3 linked regions of the Homo sapiens genome follow. The protein of the gene in region 1 purifies or fractionates together with the protein of each later gene. This does not show direct contact. Each region holds a gene or a part of one and is shown in the gene's direction. Other genes may lie near its edges.

Region 1 (7,032 bases):
CAGTTGCATGATCACAGCTCACTGCAGCCTCAAACTCCTGGGCTCCATCGATCCTCCCACTTCAGCCTCCCAAGTAGCTGGGACTACAGGCACACACCACCATGCCCAGCTAATTTTTGTATTTTTTTTTTATAGGGACGGGATCTTGCCATGTTGTGCAGGCTGGTCTCAAACTCCTGGGCTTAAGCGACCTGCCCACCTCAGCCTCCCAAAGTGCCAGGATCACAGGCATGAGCCACTGATCCCCTCTTGTTTTCCTTGACAATTGGGACCTTAGAGACTGGGGATTCTGAATTCGGTTTAGGTTTTGCCCAGTATGACATGCTCATTAGCAAACTAGAAGACCATTATTGCTGGTCATGGGGCTTCTCCAATATCTGGGGTAGACAGCCTTCTCCTAAGTGAACATATCCCTTGTTACTTCATTAAATTCCCTGGGTTTCTATCATCATACTTCAGCCATCGTTTTTACTTCTATTCAATTTAATGATTTGACATTTCAGGTTCCTGTTGGGTGCTTTTTTCCTTTGTCAACTTTCAAGGCCTCTCCTGCTGGAGAAGCTAGTCTCCCACCCCTCCTCCTGCAGTCCATTCCTTTGCCAAGAGGGCTCCTATATTTTTAGGAAGAAGAGCAGGGCACATTCTTGATTTACATCTGGTTTGTCTGCTTTGACCTGTCCCTGGCTCCCAGCTTCGTTCTTGGTTTCCTTGGAACACAAGAGTATAAGCAATTTGAGGGTAGGGCTGTGTTTTACTTGCTTGGTTTTCCCTTGGCTTTTAGTTATACAGCCAATATTCAATAAAGGTTTCTTCAGTTGGATGACTACTTAAATATTGACGTGGTCCCTTGTAAAGATTTTACAACTTTATACTGTGCTAGAAAATCCTTATTAATGTTTAAAAGTTGTTTTCCTTCCGTTTTAACCACATGCAGTAACTCTCATAGCCTGATGGAAGTCCTGATAGTGCTGTGTATATACATACGAATCAGTGAGAATGGGCATGCAGCCTGTTGGTATGTAAATGGTACCTGTAAACAATTGGGTTGGGGAAGAAGTGTATTTTAAACACCATCCTTTCAATCTTGTATTATGTAACTAATAACCATAACAGATTAATAACTAACACTTCTTGAACATTCACAATGTACCTGCATAATCTAATTTAATATTTACATCAACTCTTTGGAATGGATTTATTTATTTATTTGTTTATTTATTTATTTATTTTGAGACGGAGTCTTGTTCTGTCGCCCAGGCTGGAGTGCAGTGGCACGATCTCAGCTCACTGCAGTCTCCACCTCCTGGGTTCAAGCAATTCCCCTGTCTCAGCCTCCTCAGTAGCTGGGACTACAGGCGCACGCCACCACACTCGGCTAATTTTTGTATTTTTCGTAGAGATGGGGTTTCACCATATTAGTCAGGCTGGTCTCGATCTCCTGATCTCAAATGATCCACCAGCCTCGGCCTCCCAAGGTGCTGGGATTACAGGCATGAGCCACTGCGCCCGACCAAATGGGTACTATTATCATCCATTTTCATTTTATAAAGAAGGAAATTGAGGCTTGGAAAAAATTAAGTATCTTGCCCAATGCCTCACAATGAAGAGCAGAGCCTGAATTGTCTATGAAGAAAGAATTGTTAAGAACACTCAGTAACTAAACTAATGCTAAAGAAATTCTTGTAACACTTAAGAATTGTCTATGAAGCAGAGGTAAATGTGAGCTCAGAACCTTTCCAAATGGTCAAAATGTCCTTATTAGGTAGGGAAACCAACCATCCCAGTCCTGTGACATAGGACTGCCTGTGCTCAAACTGGAACAGTCCTAGGGAAACTGGGATGGTTGGTCACCCTGTTGTTAGGGGACTTCCCCCTTGTCATTTGAATATGCTTCTAATACTGGAAAACTTAGGAGGGAGATAGAATATTCTGGGCAAACAGCAGAAGTTTCCAATTTAAATGTAGCATATGAAAAAGCTTCCCAAGTTGACATTTGAAGAGCCTTCCTTAATTTTTCTGACCTGTAAGGTATAACAACCTGTAACAGGAGCTTTGACAGTATTCGTTGTGATTGCTGTTGCTGTAACCTCAAATTTTTTTCTAAGATTTTACCCAAAACCTCTTAATCAGCTCTATTCTACCTTTGACCCCAGAGCGTACCTGGCTAGTGTGGTCTGAAATACTCTGAATCCGATTTCCCTTCCAGCTCTAAAAACCCTAGGATTCTACCTTTAAGCTTCTGACCTGGCCCCAACTGGTTCCCATATATAAATGCTCAGAAAATGATAAAAATAGCAAACATTTCTAATTGCTTTATGTGTGCTAATTCATTTAATATCCCCTATTAATATAGTAACAAAGGGGAAGGATATAGATTCAGAGATCAGGTTTTCAAGAAAAATTTGTGCAAAAAATTATTTGTGCTTCTCTAAGTGAGTCTCAGAACAAGTAATTTCATAATGTATATTCCTGGACCTGGCTTCTGAGGTGGTGGCCACTCACACGGCATGATTTGAGTGGCTGCCTGCTGCAGTGCCTAAGTTCATACTATTTAAGATTCAGTTCTCTGTCCATGTACCATCTAAAATTCCTCTCCCAGAGCACCGCTGGTATGTAGACCACACTGTGAGAAACCCTGTATTAGAGATTGCAACGCATTGTCAACTAATTTACCATTTGATTTTGAGGATGGAGTTACTCGCTGTAGAGCGGTTTTGGGTTTCTGTGTGGTTAAGCCTGTCATTCTTTGCCTTTGTGATTTTTGCTTTTGGTATCAAGCTTCAAAAGTCCTTTCATAGCCCAAAGTAATTTAAAATAACTATTTCCTGAGTGCCTAGTGGTCTGACAAAGAATAGGCATTCTTGGATTAAGGGACCTTCTCCATTAAAAGCACAAATGCATTTGCAAACTTAACATTCATGGTTTGGATACTTCATGAGAACTCAGACTGGTAAGAAACTGTGTTTTTGCTGAGGCACAGATGTGAATCACATGTGCAAGGAGACTAGTAGGTGGGGGCCGGTCCTTTCACCAATGAGTGAGCCTGGTGCCCTACCCCACATCTACTAGTGTGTGTGTGTGTGTGTGTGTGTGTGTGTGAAAGAGAAAGAGAGAGATGTATTATATGCATATATTGTACATAGTACATATATATATATAGTGGTAAAATAGATATAAAATTTGCCATTTTAACCATTTCTAAGTGTACGATTCAGTAGCATTAGGTATATTAACAATGTTGTGCAACCATTATCATTCCCAAAATTTTGTCATCATCCCAAACAAAAACTCTGTACCCATTAAAGAATAACTCACCGTTTCCCTATTTTCCCCTCCCACTACCCCCTGGTAACCTCTATTCTACTTTCTGTCTCTATGGATTTGCCTATTTAGATATTTCATATAAATTGAATCATACAATATTTTGTGTCTGATTTCTTTCACTCAACATGTTTTAAAGTTCATCCATGTTGTAGCACATATCAGTACTTCATTCTTTTTATGGCTGAATAAAATTCCATTGTATGGATATACCTCTTTTGCTTATCCATTCATCTGTCAGTGGACACTTAGGTTGTTGCCCTCTTTTGGCTATTATGAAGAATGCTGCTATGAACACTGGTGTACAAGTATCTGTTCAAGTCCCTGCTTTTAATTCTTTGGGGTATATACCTAGGAGTGGCATTGCCCAGCACCTACTTTTCAACACAATTTTGTGGTCTACTGCTCGTAGTCAACACATACGTAGGAACCTGTCATAAAATGAGCAAATGTCTCAGGGCATTCCTTGAGGAGAATGCTCCCTCTCTAAGCCAGCTGCTGGTGCTAGTGATTACAACGAAGAGAAAGCTACAAAGTTTGGCAAAGTGATGGTGCTGCCTGGGAATGGACTTTTTATGGGGGAAATGACATGCTTTGGAGATTGCATCCATGAGTTGGAGACTGGCAAAAGTTTTAGTGTGTATCTCTCATGAATGGCCAAGGTCTAGCATACCTTTTTAAAGAGTAACATGTGACACCATTACTTGCCATTAACTACTTTGTATGGATTTGTTTATCAGACCTCTGGTCATGGTGACAGCCCACTGGGAATAGGGTCCTATGGGACTGGAATGTGGCAAAGCCAACTTTGGAGGAGAGAGGTAGAGAGATGGGGCTGGAGTCCATGGAAGGCCTAGCTTGGGCTGTTACAGCACGGGGCCTGGACAGCATGAGAGTTCAAAAGATCTGTTTGGAAAGTTCATGCTCTTAAAGAAAGGTGGGAAGCACAGAGCTTGAATTTCATCTACTCCTCAGTTTTTGCCAGGAGTGGACTATTATTTACTGAGTCCACACCTCAGCAAATAATGCTTTCCAGGGTGACCTTAGTTTTCTTCCCTGCCTGAAGAGAAGGTTAACACTCCTGCTTATATTTGCACTTGCAGATAATCCAACAAGCTCTCCATTCCAGGTAGAGGGTTGGCTCCTTTCCAGATCAGGTACTGAAGGCCAGGGAGTCTGGGTAAAATGGAGATGGATGTATCTGGCCAAGACTGCCAAGACCTCTAGGCATCCCGGGTGATGGAACCCTGCAGAGTTCTTGCCCCCACCTGGTGGGTGGGTTGGTTGGGAGGAATGAGTTTGGCCATGTCTGCACCTGGTGGTGGCTGTTGCGCTGTTTGCTCATCGTGATTCTGCTCCTACCTGAACTTTCTCTTCTTCTTATGTAAGCCATCCCTAGAGATAACTGTAAAGCCATAATCTGCCATGGCTGGCTGGGCTTATATAACAAATTGGTTGGTATCGTGCAATAGCCTCTTGAACCCTGGAGAAACCAATGTGCTAAGTTGAGACTAAAACATGGGTTCATTTGATGGGGTATTTTGTGTGCTCAGTGAACTCAGGGGAGAGGAGTCCATGACCACAGGGGTCAGAAAGATGAAATTTCCTTTTAAATAAAGAGAACAATAATGGCCCAGAACATACTGTGCTGTCCCAAAGTCTGCAATAATGGGACAAGGGTTAGGGCATTGCTGTAGCACCACAGCTTTGGCAGAAAAGGCCCTCCACAGAACCCCATGGGCTAGGAGGAGCCCCATGAAGGCCAGAAGGCTAGATCCCAGTTTCAGGGCAACCTAGGTTTGATGAAGAGTCAGGTCAGGGAAAATGTCTTTTGGAGGCCACTGTCTACCATGCTGAAATCCAGCTTAACTAGAGTTGGAGTGGGGCTAAGATGCGATCTGTGAGAGCAGAAAGCAAGCTTTTCTCGATTCTATTCCAGGCAGGAGGGAATTTCATCAGTAGGCAAGGCAAGTTCACTTGTACCTTCTAGCTGAAAATTCCTGCCCCAAAGTAGCTGTGGCCCTTCTGGAAACTGTATAAGAGGCATTAAGATCCCAGCCAGCACAGAAGACTGAATGGGAAGCTTCCCATTGTGCAGACACTAGCCCGAGGGAAAACAAGAGCTGGAAGCAGGCTGGATCACTGATGATCCAGGCTCACCATTGGCCTTCCTCTCCTGGGAGCCACTTTCCTCAAATAGGTCCAGCCAGAAATCGGGCCCCTGCCTATGGACAGAGCACACAGGGACCTTCCCCATCCTTCCTCGAAGGAAGACTTTACTCACAGAATAGGCTTGAGTATTCAACCCACTTCTTCTAATCTTCTCTTCAGGGGAGATGGAGAGCAGCTGTTCACAGCTTAGGGGTCTGGCCAGGATTCCCGCTCCGTGCTATCTAGGCTGGTGATTGGCTAGAGCTATCCCTAAGGAAGAAGGGGGTGAGAAGTGAGAGGAAAGGAAGCGACTCCAGCAGCTCCTTCCTGGCTTACCCCACTCCCAAGACACCCCTCCTTCAGCGCTGCCGTTTAGCCTCACTCCCAGACTAGGCTGGGCCTAGGCCAGCCTGAGGGCCCTGACTCATAACTAGCACATCTTATGTAACAGCCAGGTTACTGAGGCATCACACTTCTGCTTGCTCAGTGGTAGGCTTCCCTGGGGACAGGCATTTGGAAGCCTGCTGGGGGTCCAAGTCAAGCTCATCATACTTCCCAAGGAAAAGCCTACTCTCCCCAGTGTCAGGCAAGCAGTCTGCTCAGAGGCAAATGCCAGGCAGCAAAGCCTGACCCGGTCCCACACTCAGCCTCCACACTCAGCAGTAAATGTAAGCAGACAGGCAAGCTGGAGTGGACTTAATTTGGCTTGAGGCATTTTGGAGGTGGCAGGGAGGAACCTACTATCACCTGATAATGCACTGCTAAAGAAACTGCGTGGTGCATGGAGAGGCCCCAGAACAGGTCGCAGAAGTCCCTCTTCCTTTTGTATCTGCTTGTTGGTTCAGAAACTACTGGGTGGGTTGGGGTGGGGGGAGTTGTTGGGGGGGGGGCGGAAACTCCAGGCTGACTGACACCAGGTGAAAGGGTTTACCGGAAGGTGGAGGAGCTGTTTAAAGGAAGGCCTTTCAAGAGCCAATTCCCAGTCCACGCTCCATGAAGTCTCAAAGTCCCCAGGTTGACCTGAATTCACAGTGATTCTTAGCTCTCTGCCTGGCCTATTCAGAAAATTACATTACCGGCTTAGTGGAACTGAGCCCCCAGTGAAGTCAGTATTGCCAGATTCTATGACAGATTTCTCTAATAACAAATGTGACTATCTACAGCACAGAATACCCCCATCAATCTAATATTCCACTAGCTCAAGGTTTGTAACTAAACCAATAGCTCCTCTTCTTCTCTTCCTTTGTCTTTTCCCCAGCCTGTCTCACGTGTGTTGCCATCAAGTAAATGGCTCACAGGCTGTGAGTAGGTGGGGACACTGCTCTCCACTCCAAGAAATAGAGGAGAAACAGGGAAACAAAGTCAAAAAGGTGGTGTGGGAATTACCAGCAGGCATGATTTGTATCCAAAGCTGACTCATAAGTTCTTGGACAAGCTCAAGACTACCATCTCAGGGCTCAGAAGAGCTTGGCACCCTTAGTCCCCCAGATCACAGAATCCAGTGAAAATTAGGGGACCTGAGATGGAGATGCAGAATTTTCCTTTGTGGGACTCCTCCCA
Region 2 (7,032 bases), on another chromosome or scaffold:
CCCTCCCCCAACTCTTCTTGAACTCTTGCATTCAGCACCCACCCCAGGGGAGAAGATGCTGTTTCTCTTCCTGTCCTGTCCCCAGACTCTTCCAAAGCAAACCCCCTTGGCCTCCAGCTTCCCTGCTCTCTGTCCTTAAGCCTGGCCTGAGCTTCTCTTGGGGCCACAGACCCTGCCTCTCTCTCTCAGTGCCCCCTACTCCCCAGCCTTCCCCCACCTCCTGACGGTCTTCTGTTTGCACGCATCTGTTTTGCTATTTCCTTGCCCAAAAGTCTGTCTCCCTTCCACGTCCCCTCATGCCTCTTCTCCCTCTTAACAGAGGGGAGTGGTGGAGAAGGGCCAGGGGACACCACCTGGGCCCCCTTCCTCTGCTCTGTCCCTTAACCACCCTGGACTCTCTGTTCTTGGCTTTTCTGAGAAGCTGGGGCCTCCCGGGGCCTCACAGAGGCGTCTTGTCATGTTCCTGTCGCCCCCGCCCTTTTTGCTGCTGCCCCCAGAGCCTGTTGGGCTATGCAGGTCCACGCCCAGGCTCCGCCTCCCCCCAGCTCCACAACCAGCTCCCCCCCCAACCCTAGGGCAGAGCGCAGGAGCAGAATTCCACCTGAGTCCGAGAAGTTTGAGAGGGGAAGCGAGAGTGGGGGGTGGGTGAGGGGATGGAGGAGCAGTTTCTGAGGATCCATTCATTCTACAAATAGCTACTGAGCAAACTGACCTTCTAGCAGGGGAGAGACACAATAAATACTTTAATTTCAGATAATGTTAGGTGCTATAAAAAAATGAAATAGTTCAGTAAACCAGTGAATGATGGGGAAATGCCTCTCTAAGAGGTGACATTGGAGTCATTTTAAGAAGGCAGCCTGGGTGCAGTGGTTCACGCCTGTAATCCCAGCATTTTGGGAGGCCGAGGCGGGCAGATCACTTGAGGTCAGGAGTTCAAGACCAGCCTGGCCAACATGGTGAAACCCTGTCGTCTCTACTAAAAATAAAAAAATTAGCCAGGTGTGATGGCAGGTGCCGGTAGTCCCGGCTACTCAGGAGGCTGAGGCAGGAGAATCAGTTTAACCTGGAAGGCATAGGTTACAGTGAGCCAAGATCACGTCACTGCACTCCAGCATGGGCGACAGAGCGAGACTCCAGTAAAGGCACAGGCTGGGAGTGGTGGCTCATTCTTCCAGCACTTTGGGAGGCTGAGGCAGGAGGATCACTTGAGCCCAGGAGTTTGAGACCAGCCGGGACAACATCTTGAGACCCTGTGTTAACCAAAAATAAAAAATTAGCCAGTTATGATGGTGCATGCCTGTAGTCCCAGCTACTCGGGTGGCTGAGGCTGGAGGATCGCTTAAGCTCAGGAATTCAAGGCTGCAGTGAGCCATGATTGTGCCACTTCACTCCAGCCTGGGTGACAGAGTGAGACTGTCTCAAAAAAATAAAAATAAAACATAAAAGAAGGCAGACACGCTGCGTAGCCTCTGATTAGGGGTCCCGGCCCAGTGGGAGCTGGGGCATTGGAGTCTATTCTGGGTTCCTCCGTCAGTCACCCCCTCCTCCCACTTGGGAGACTCTCTCTAATGTCCTATACACCACTCCTCCCATTCCTTAGGTTGACCCACTTCTTGCTTCTAGTACCTGCCTAATGCCTTCTCCAGAGCTGGAGGAGGGAAGGACTGCGGGGACAGGACTCCTGGGTCCTCGAAAGAGAGTGGGGAGGTGGAGAGGGAGGAAGGCTAATAGGCAAGTTTTAAGGCAGCTGGTTCCTTTCTTTTCTCTTTTCATGTGATGGTTCCTACCTCTCCGCCTCCAGGTGCCCCCACTTGACTCTCGCCCCAGCTCCCCAGCCCTCTACTTCACCCACGATGCCAGCCTGGTTCACAAATCTCCAGACCCCTTCGGAGCAGTAGCAGCTCAGAAGTTCAGCCTGGCCCACTCCATGTTGGCCATCAGTGGTCACCTAGACAGCGACGATGATAGGTAGGTGGGCTTCGTGGGGTGGTGGGGCGTGGGGTTCAGGTTCCCCGCCCAGCACCCGGGGTAGCTGTAAGAAAGTGCCTGGTAGGCATCCTTCCCCCAGGTTGAACTTGGAGAGGACCTCTTAGAGAAACCTGGCCTGGGCATAGCCACTGCACACAGTTGATTTCGGACCCACTCCCTCTCTGTGGAGAGGGCTGGGTGGGACTCCCTGGCTCAGAACTGTCAGGTCACAGACTTTTTTAGAGTCTGAAGGGAGTCATTGTTGTCAGATTCCAGAGCTCTTGCAGATTTAGAGATCATCTGGCCAACCCAGGAACCCACTGGCAAATGCATGCTCTAGACAGAATAGCAAATCAGGCCGGGGCACAGTGGCTCCCGCCTGTACTCATAGTGCTTTGGGAGGCCCAGGCAGGAAAATTGCTTGAGGCCAGGAGTTCAAGACCAAGCCCTGGCAATGTAGCGAGACCTCATCTCTAAAAAGAAAAAGAAAGAAAGAAAAAAAAAATATATATATATATACATAAAGGAAGTAGGCTGGGCATGGTGGCTCATGCCTGTAATCCCAGCACTTTAGGAGGCTGAAGCGGGCAGATCACCTGAGGTCAGGAGTTCGAGGCCAGCCTTGCCAACACGGTGAAACCCTGTCTGTACTAAAAATACAAAAATTAGCCAGGCGTGGTGGTACGTGCCTGTAATCCCAGCTACTCAGGAGGCTGAGGCAGGAGAATCACTTGAACCCAGGAGGCAGAGGGTGCAGTGAGCCGAGATCGCACCACTGCACTCCAGCGTGGGTGACAGAGCGAGACTCCGCCTCAAAAAAAAAACAACAAAAAAAACTGAAAAAGAATGGAAATCAGTTTCCTCCCAGTTCCATCTCCCTCTTTCTCTCCTAACAAAGGACTGGGACTCCCTAACAGCACCTGTGGAGCGTGACATCCTGATAGCCCACAGGGTCTACTTTAGGATCCTAAGATTTCTAGAACCGAGAAAGCAAGTCCCTAAGATGGGCCAGCTAGGAACAGAATCAGAGCTAGGAACGGCAAAGGGGCAGGGGCAGCACTGCAGAGAGCGACTTTCTGGGGTTCTCCCTTTAGGGGACAGTGCTCTGTTGGGTGGGTTTTCAGGGCCAGGTGTCACCATTCCTAAGAAAGCCAGCAAGCTGAAAAGGGAGGCCCAGAATCGTGAGTCAGAGATAGCCAGGCTGCCTGCTTCTCCCCGGGGACTGATAGGAACCGGGCAGAAGGGCTGGGGAGTCACCGCTTTTCTTTTGGAGGGAGAAGTGGGACTTCCCGTGGGAGGTTTTCAAGGGGAGGGACTTCCTGCTTGGAAGGAAATTGGGGGTGGGGCTTCGAGAGTGGGTGAGTGGGTGCCTGAGGGACCAATTCCAGATGGGAGTCGCTCCTTCCTGTCCTCCCCAGATCAGGGGCCACTCGCTGGGATCAGGGACTCAAGCCCACCACTGATAGGGTCCTGCGGCCTCAGGGAGGATAGGGACCTGGCAAAGGAGGTGGCCAGGAGCTGGTGGGACGGAGGGCAAGAGTGCCAGTGCTGGGTGGGGCTGGGCGGGGCTGGGCAGGACTGGGTGGCTTCTGCACGCCCCATTCCCACTCTCAGGAATGTGCGAGGTGTGAGGTCGGCCAGGGCTGGGAGAGTCACCTGCCGCCATCACTGCTATTCTCAGCGTTTCCCGCCCTCTCCCTCTCCCACTTGGGAGGTTCCCCGGCAAGAGGACTCCCCGTCCCTCCCCCACCCCTGTTGAGTTCACAGCCCAGCCTCCTGCTGTCTCTGTCTTAGAGGATTCAACCTCCTGAGGCCTCCGTCTTTCCCCTGTACCCTCCCTCCCTGCCTCCCTCCATCCCACCCCCTCCCTGCACACCCCAATCTGACCGGTCCGGTTCCCAGCCTCCACTTCACCCTGCTGTGCTCCAAGGCTCTTGGGGATCTGTCCCAGCCCAGCCCCTCAAGCCCCACCCTGCCAGGCCAGCGGGTTTGGGTTGGGCCACCCCCTGCCCCCTAGGAATGGGACATGTAGGCCCCACCTCTCCTGTCTGGTGTGCACAGGGCTGGCAGGACAGGATGCCAGTGGCCTGGGACCTCTCTCTTAAGAGGGAAGGTGGGCTGAGATGTTCAGTGCCTGGATCACAGGGAGGGAGTTGGGGACGCCTGACCAGTCCCTGAATCTGGGGATGGGCGAACAGAGGGTGCAGGTGAATCTAGAATGCTCACGTGCCCCAGGGCTGGAAATCCTTGTCCCCTCCCGGCAGGCAGGAGGTAATTAAGGTGTGAAGAAGTGGATGGAAGGAATGGGGGTGGGGGCAGTGACCGGCCTGGGGGATCCAGGCATTATACAGAATGGATCCCAGGGACTTGGGAAAGAAAAGGTACATTTATTTATCCAGTGCCTCCCTTGGGTCCGGTACTGCCTTCTCCCTTCTAATCCTAAAAAGCAGTTCCATTCTCCCACTTGCCAGATGAAGTATCTGAGACTCAGAGAAGGAGGTTTTTTTTTGTTTTGTTTTTGTTTTTTTCTTTTTTAGATGGAGTCTTGCTCTGTTTCCCAAGCTGGAATGCAGTGGCACGATCTTGGCTCACTGCAACCTCTGCCTCCCAGGTTTAAGCGATTCTCCTGGCTCAGCCTCCCCAGTAGCTGGGACTACAGGTGCATGCCACCATGCCCGGCTAATTTTTGTATTTTTAGTAGAAACGGGGTTTCACCATGTTGGCCAGGCTGATCTCAAACTCCTGACCTCAGGTGATCCACCCACCTCGACCTCCCAAAGTGCTGGGATTACAAGCATGAGCCACCTCACCCGGCCAGGAGGGTTTTAGAAACTTGCCCAAGGGCCACCCAGCTAGTTTAAGTGGCTGGACTGCAGCTGGAGCCTGGGTCCAACTCCAAAGCCACACCTTCTCCACTGTCCTACTGGGATGCCTGTGTCCCAGGCAAAGAGGTGGCGGCAATGGTCTACAATATCCTTTCTCTCTAGGACAGTCAGGTACAGCTCTCCCAAGCAGGGCAGGGAGCCAGCCCCCCTTCCCCCTCCCCGACCTCCCCAGCCCCGCCCCAAAGACACCACAGATCCGGGACAGCATAGAGACAGGGCAGCTGGATGACACTTTCTTGGCCCCAGACCTAGGCCCTGGGGGATCCCCTGAACCCACTGGAGAGTGTGCAGGGCTGGCCCCTGTCCCCAAGATCCCAGGCTCCCCATTTCTCCCAGGTGTCCTGCTTTTTATCTCATCTTCATGTTGAGGCCGTTTTATTTGACCCTCAAAGAGGAAGACCAGCTTCTAGGGCTGTCCCCGCCCCAGGACCAAGAGTCCTGCAGGGCTAAGTCTCCCACTGTGCATGTCACACACTGCACAACTAACTCCAGGGGGTGCCGCTCATATTTGAAATCACAGTCAATGCTTGAAGTCACGACAGTTTTCCAGAAGATGGCATTAAGGATCTCGAAGAAGGGGGCATTTTCTAATCCATACAAACTTGCTTTTGGGCTTGTGGTGGAGGTCGATCCTGTCTCAGCAGCCCCTACTTTCCTCCCCCGGACCCTGTCAAAGAATTCTAGCACAGTGCCCACAACCCCTCGCTTTGGGGTCCTAAAGGGAAGGGCCTGCATTGCCAGAGCCCTGGTCCCTTGAAGTGTGTGTTAGAATGTTCCAATAGAGGCCTGGCACAGTGACTCACACCTGTAATCCCAGGACTGAGATGGGAGGCTGAGGTGGGTGGATCATGAGGTCAGGAGTTCAAGACCAGCCTGGCCAACATGGTGAAACCCCATTTTGCCGGAGGCTCCCCGGCAAAAATACAAAAATTAGCTGGGCATGGTGGCTCATGCCTGTAATCTCAGCTACTCTGGAGGCTGAGGCAGGAGAATCACTTGAACCCAGAGGTGGAGGTTCCAATGAGGGAAAATCCCGCCATTGCACTCCAGCCTGGGCAACAAGAGCAAAAACTCCCAGGCGCTAGACAAACAGAAGACAGTCACCTGTCGGCTAACAAACGTTTATTGCTGTATTATTCCTTTATCTCTGGTGAGAATGAACACCTTACTTGACATCTTTACCCCTGAGTCTCTGCCCAGCAGGGCCCATGTTCCTATCCCTGTGTATCCAACCCCTTTGGTCTCTGTGAGTGTTTAATGGGGTGGTGGCAGTATTGGGCTTTCTGTGGTGGCTCCATCTCCACCCAGGTGTTGCTGATTGAAATAGCTCGAAAATTACTTTGACCCTCCTGCTGGCAGACCCACCTCCACCCTTCAACTTCTCCTCTCCCACCACCCCAAGAGTCCCAGATGCCCTTCCCCCACCCACCCCATCCTGCTCGCTCAGGCCTAGTCACCTCCTTAGTTGCTCCACCTGTCAGCGCCTTCTGCACCCAGAGCTGGGATGAGAAATGGAAAATTCCCAGCTCCCTTGTGCTCCCTTCCTGGCTGCAGGACCTTATCCAGGGGTCACCTTGAATTGAGTGCTGATCCCCCTGCAGGAAAGCAAGTCTGAGCTGACAGCCAGGAGGGAGGGCTTACAAGGGAGTCCAGGGATGTGGGCTGCAGCGCCTTGAGGCCCCTGCTCCAAGGGGGGCCCAGCTGGGGGCTGGAGGGCAGGACTGGGGATCCCGCCACAGCGCCAGAGTGCAGGGGTGCAAGGGTGGGTCGGGAGCCTCAGGGCAAGAGCCTGGGGCCTGAGGGGTGGGAGAGGGAGCCTTGGAGGATGAGGTCAGCACAAGGGCCTGCGCAGGTGGGGCCTGAGAGTGGGGCTTGAGGGAGAGCCAGGTTCTGGGACCAGGAGCCCAACGTCGTGGAGCCAGCCTGGAGCCCGGCCCTGGGGGCTGTTGAGCCAGGCCTGAGTCGCCCTCTGGTGGCCACTTCCCAGACTGCAGCCAGACCCTGTCACCCCAGACTCCCAGCCCTCTTCCAAGCCCTGTTGCTCCTCTTCCCAGTGTCCCTTCTCCAAGCTCACTTCCCTTCCTCTCCTCAAACCCTCGCTTCCTCTGAGACCCCAGACCCAGGTCCCAGGCCCATAGGCGATTTTTTTTTTTTTTTTTTTAAGACAGAGTTTTGCTCT
Region 3 (4,923 bases), on another chromosome or scaffold:
GATTTTTTGGGGGTCGAGGGAAGCAGAGCATGGTGCTCCAATCCCAGAACCCAGCTGTCCTCAAGCTCAGAGGACCAGGTCCTGGCCTGGCTGCTGCTGCTGGGACTCCTCCCTATGGGCATCCCTGCATGTCCTGTGTGTCCCTGAGGAGGGACATGGGGAACTCAGGGGCCACCTCTCCTCGAACTGCGGGGCCAGAGCAGAGAGCCCTTGCACACCACCAGCCTCTCCTCCCTGTGCCCCAGGAGTTCATCCTTTGCTGCCTGGCCCGGGACCCTGCCCGCCGGCCCTCTGCCCACAGCCTCCTCTTCCACCGCGTGCTCTTCGAGGTGCACTCGCTGAAGCTCCTGGCAGCCCACTGCTTCATCCAGCACCAGTGTGAGCAGCAGGCCGGCCCGGGGGGTGGCTGGGGAGGTGGAGGTTGGGACGTGGAAGGGGCCCTGCAGGACCCACGGCCTGAGCACACCGCCTTGATGCTCTTGTGGCCGCAGACCTCATGCCTGAGAATGTGGTGGAGGAGAAGACCAAGGCCATGGACCTGCACGCGGTCTTGGCGGAGCTTCCCCGGCCCCGCAGGCCCCCGCTGCAGTGGCGGTGAGCAGTCAGCACCCAGAAGCCTCCCCTCCCCACACCTCCCCTCCCCGCACCTCCCCTCCCCTCGCCCCGGCCAGCCCCTCATGTGCCTCCCACTTCCATGCCAGGTACTCGGAAGTCTCCTTCATGGAGCTGGACAAATTCCTGGAGGATGTCAGGTGAGAACTGATGTAAGGTTGGGGGCCAGGCAGCTGTCAGGCCTGAACCCCCAGCCACCCTGTTGTGTCCCCAGGAATGGAATCTACCCACTGATGAACTTTGCAGCCACTCGACCCCTGGGGCTGCCCCGTGTGCTGGCCCCACCCCCGGAGGAGGTCCAAAAGGCCAAGACCCCGACGCCAGAGCCCTTTGACTCTGAGACCAGAAAGGTGAGTCCCCTCTCCTGCTGCTCAGTGCCATCCCTCAGACCTTCTAACAGCCAGATAAGAGGTGCCCCTCCTTCTCTTAGGGCCTGCATCCCCACAGCCCAGCTCTCCTCCTGGCTGCCAGAGACCAGATCCAGGCTGACCCCCTTGTGGGGGTCATGGGGGTTATAGGACAGGCTGGGCACTCTCCTTTTCCGGGAGGCTCCCTGTCCCCTCAGATCCTTCCCCTGCATCCTGCTGCCTGCCCTGAACCTACTCCAAGCATCCTTCCTCCAGAACTCACCCGGGCTCTTCCACCCTGCCAGCAATCTTCCCCCACCCCCGCACCCCTCCCACCCCCCCCACCCCTCCCATCCCCCACCTGGTGCTGATTCCCGGACATCTATGTCCTGGTGTCTCCCCAGACTTTTCCTGCAGCACCCCCTCCTGGCCAGGGGCCTCTCTCGGTGCAGTGCAGCCAGAATTCATGTCCTAACAGGCAAACTGCCTGCTCCTGGCTGCCAGCAGAGATCATGGGAGTCCTCAGCTGACACCCAGGCTCTGGGAGGCCTGATCCCGCAGGCACCGTGCACTTCGGCGCGGTCCTGTCCCGCCCAACCTCCCTTTCCCCACGCCCACAGTTCCCTCTTTGTTCAAGTTGTTCTCTCCGCGGTGAAAGCTCCTATTCAGCCTTCAGTACCCAGCCCCTAATGTCGACTCTTCTCGAAGCTTTCCTTAGCTTGCCAAGCCACTAGCAGTGAGATGGGCTCCTCTTAGAGATTCCCCCCTTTCCAGTCTTTGCTGTCCCTTCCCGGCCCCTTTGGGGCCGCGGCATGTGGTCTTGCTGCTGGGTTTGTGAGTCCCAGCCTTCCCCCGCTGCAGGTCATCCAGATGCAGTGCAACCTGGAGAGAAGCGAGGACAAGGCGCGCTGGCATGTGAGCGGGGCCTGGGAGGGCGGCGCTGCCGTGGGGAAGGCGGGAGCGTGGCGGAGCCCTGAACCCCCAGCCGACCACGCCCCGCCGCCTCCCCAGCTCACTCTGCTTCTGGTGCTGGAAGACCGGCTGCACCGGCAGCTGACCTACGACCTGCTCCCAAGTAGGCTGGGCAGGGGACTTGGGCGGCGGGCGGTGACCCCAGGCGGCGGGTGGGCAGCGGCCTCATGCCTCGCCTTACGCCATTGCCTCAGCGGACAGCGCCCAGGACCTCGCCTCGGAGCTCGTGCACTATGGCTTCCTCCACGAGGTGCGCTGGGCGGTGCGGCGCGGCCTGGCGGAGGGGGCGCACGGGGCAGGCCGCGCCCCTCCGTCCCCCATGCCTCCCTCCTTCCGCAGGACGACCGGATGAAGCTGGCCGCCTTCCTGGAGAGCACCTTCCTCAAGTACCGTGGGACCCAGGCCTGACCCGGAGCCCCAGCCCCAGGGGACCATGCCGGGGTGCTGCCTGGGCAGGCCATGTTGGGGAGACTCCAGCACCGTGGGGCTGCCCTCCTCCATGCGCCTGGGAGCACAAAGGCCCCGGTAGTGAAGGAACCCCCCGTCTCCTGAGAGTGGGGCTGACCCTGCCTTGGGCGCCGAGGGGTTGGGGGGTGGGTGTGGGGGAGCCGTTAGGCCTCCCAGGTCCTTAGGATCAGGGTTGCCCCCAGAACCCCTTCCCATATCCTCCATTCTCCGCCCTGAGTTCCTACCCAGGCTGCCTGGCCGGGGCCACTGCCTCCTCAGCATGCAGGAGGCTGCCCTGTAGGGAACCCCAGCTCTGGGGCTTGGGGGTGAGGGTCAGCCCTGGACAGACCTCTGCCCAGGGAACTGCTCCATGGGGTCTGGGAGAGCAGCCATCCCCTGCTGGCACCATAGACCCACACAAGGAGCCTGCACAGCAAGCCAGCGGTGACACACCTGCAGGTGTCAGGCATGGCACTGGGCACAACAGGGACCTGGCAGGAGAAACAGACCACAGAGAGGTCTGGAGTTGAGGCTGTTGTCAGCAAAGCCCCTGGTCCCACACAGCTCTGCCCTAGAGCCACCTCTTTGACCCTTTACCCACCCTGAGACCAGAACTTGCAGCCCCTCTGCAGATCTCCTCTGGCCACTGCAGCCCCTCCAATGGGCTTTTTCTCTCATGCATTCCCTGGCCTGGAGGCGTCAGGGACCCCACATCCTCCCTGCTCCTCAGACTCACAGCCCCTCCATGTTACCTCCCGCACCTCCTCCCTGGGGCAGCTGCTCCCTGGGCCTCTGAGGATGTCAGCTCCTGGCTCCCTGCCTCTCTCCCACTCCACTCCTGGCTCAGTCTTAGAGATTTCTATGCCCTCATGGATTCTACCCCTGCCTTCCTGGCCTCTTGATTCTTGGCTTGCCTCTCCTCCAATTCCAAACTTAGTGAAATGGCCTTAAGCATTTTAAACTGTATGTATACATTAGCGCATTCATGCCTTTCTAAACGCATTTCAAATGTCAACCAGGAAGGCACACCACTGTATTAGTTTTATACTGCCGCTGTAAAATTTACCACAAACTTAGTGACTTAACACAAATTTATTGCAATTCTGTAGGCTGGAAGTCTGACTATGGGTCTCACTGGACTAGAATCAAGGCTGGCAGGCTGCCTTCCTTCCTGGAGGTTCTAGGGGAGACTCTGTCTCCTGCTCCTTCAGGCTGCTGGCAGAATCCACATCCTTTCGGTGGCAGGGCCAAGGTCCCCACTTTCTTGCTGACTGTAAACTAAGGCCACTTCCAGCTTGTAGAGGCTGCCTACATTCCTTGGCTCTTGGCCCCCTCCTCCATCTTCAGAGCTAGCAGGTTCAGTCTGTGTCACGAACCATTTCTCTGGTTCCCTGCAGACAGGAAAGGTTGTCCCTAAGGACTCATGAGATTAGGTTGGGCCCAGCCAGATAATACATGATAATCTCCCTCCTCAAGGTTTTTAATATTAAACACATCTGCAGGACACATTTTGCCATGTAAACTAACATTCACTGGTTCCAGGGATTAAGGAATGAACCTCTTTTGTTGGGGAAGGGTGGCATTCTGCTGACCACAGCACTCCAACCAAAAGCCAAAAACCAAAGCAAGACTTACTAACGCATATCAAATAAATTAAAGGTACAAAATCGTGAATCTCAGTTATCTTAAATATTCCAATACTATTTACAAAATTATTCAAATTCTCACGCCTTCCAACTCAAAATTAGCAATCTAAAGTAATTTCCATATCCTAGATGGAAACCCTCATGCTAAACTGTCTGATTATGCATGGTTCTAAATGGTTTCAGTGGCAAATACATAACATTGTACTACTGATTAAACTGAACTTAAAAGCATCAATACCACCATTGCTGCACTTAATCATGTCTCTGTTGAATTTTTCCTTTTAAATTTTATCTTTTCAGAATTATATATGTATTGTTTTTAAAGTAGAATAGTTTTTTTTTTGAGGCCAATAATAAATAATAAATGCAGGCTCCTACTCTGATCCTCTCCAAATTCAACTCTCTTAACTGTTTCTTCAGGCATTTGAAATCCATGTTTTTCAAAACCATGAGCATGCTTTTAGTCCTGTTTATTCGTTTTTCTACATTAGATGTCCCTGGCTGGCATCCTCTGGGAGGAGGGCGGTCACCTGCCTCAGTCTCCTGGCGGCATCATTCCAGTGTTACGGGCATCATAGCTGCATGGGTGTTATTACAGCTTCATTACCACACGTCTCAGGAGAGAACACGGTGTTCTAGGATGGCATTTCTTGCACAACTTTTTGTTTTCCCTGGAGTTAATAATTGCCTTTTTTTTGGTTTGCCTAGTTTTCTATATGTGTTTGTCATTGATTCATCTTTAGACTTTCCTGAAGAAGCATGAGCATCCTGTCACAGCTTAGGACTCATCACATAACTGACTGCTCAGTTTCTTCTTTTCCTGGAGCCCCCACCATACAAGCCCCCTGCCCAGGCTACTTGTTCTTGGACTTACAGCCCAGTGGTCAGCATGGGTTAAC

Evidence for each region. Proteins that work in one complex are often made in the same cells at the same time.
Region 2: the proteins of TSC22D3 (region 1) and TSC22D4 purify together in Homo sapiens (affinity purification with mass spectrometry; 4 studies listed by BioGRID and IntAct, with this or other methods). This does not show direct contact.
Region 3: the proteins of TSC22D3 (region 1) and NRBP2 purify together in Homo sapiens (affinity purification with mass spectrometry; 2 studies listed by BioGRID and IntAct, with this or other methods). This does not show direct contact.

The regions. Positions count from the first base shown.
Region 1 is NC_000023.11:107,765,783-107,772,814, reverse strand, and holds part of TSC22D3 (TSC22 domain family protein 3), read left to right. Parts: intron 1-7,032. UniProt on the Homo sapiens protein: Protects T-cells from IL2 deprivation-induced apoptosis through the inhibition of FOXO3A transcriptional activity that leads to the down-regulation of the pro-apoptotic factor BCL2L11.
Region 2 is NC_000007.14:100,469,210-100,476,241, reverse strand, and holds part of TSC22D4 (TSC22 domain family protein 4), read left to right. Parts: intron 1-1,801; coding exon 1,802-1,968; intron 1,969-7,032. Other genes in the region: TSC22D4-C7ORF61 (uncharacterized protein LOC122198330), read left to right, coding at 1,802-1,968.
Region 3 is NC_000008.11:143,833,078-143,838,000, reverse strand, and holds the end of NRBP2 (nuclear receptor-binding protein 2), read left to right. Parts: intron 1-184; exon of another isoform or gene 185-245; coding exon 246-378; intron 379-491; coding exon 492-594; intron 595-701; coding exon 702-752; intron 753-826; coding exon 827-962; intron 963-1,820; coding exon 1,821-1,874; coding exon of another isoform or gene 1,875-1,970; coding exon 1,971-2,034; coding exon of another isoform or gene 2,035-2,125; coding exon 2,126-2,181; coding exon of another isoform or gene 2,182-2,270; coding exon 2,271-2,339; coding exon of another isoform or gene 2,340-2,563; 3' UTR 2,564-4,418; downstream 4,419-4,923. UniProt on the Homo sapiens protein: May regulate apoptosis of neural progenitor cells during their differentiation.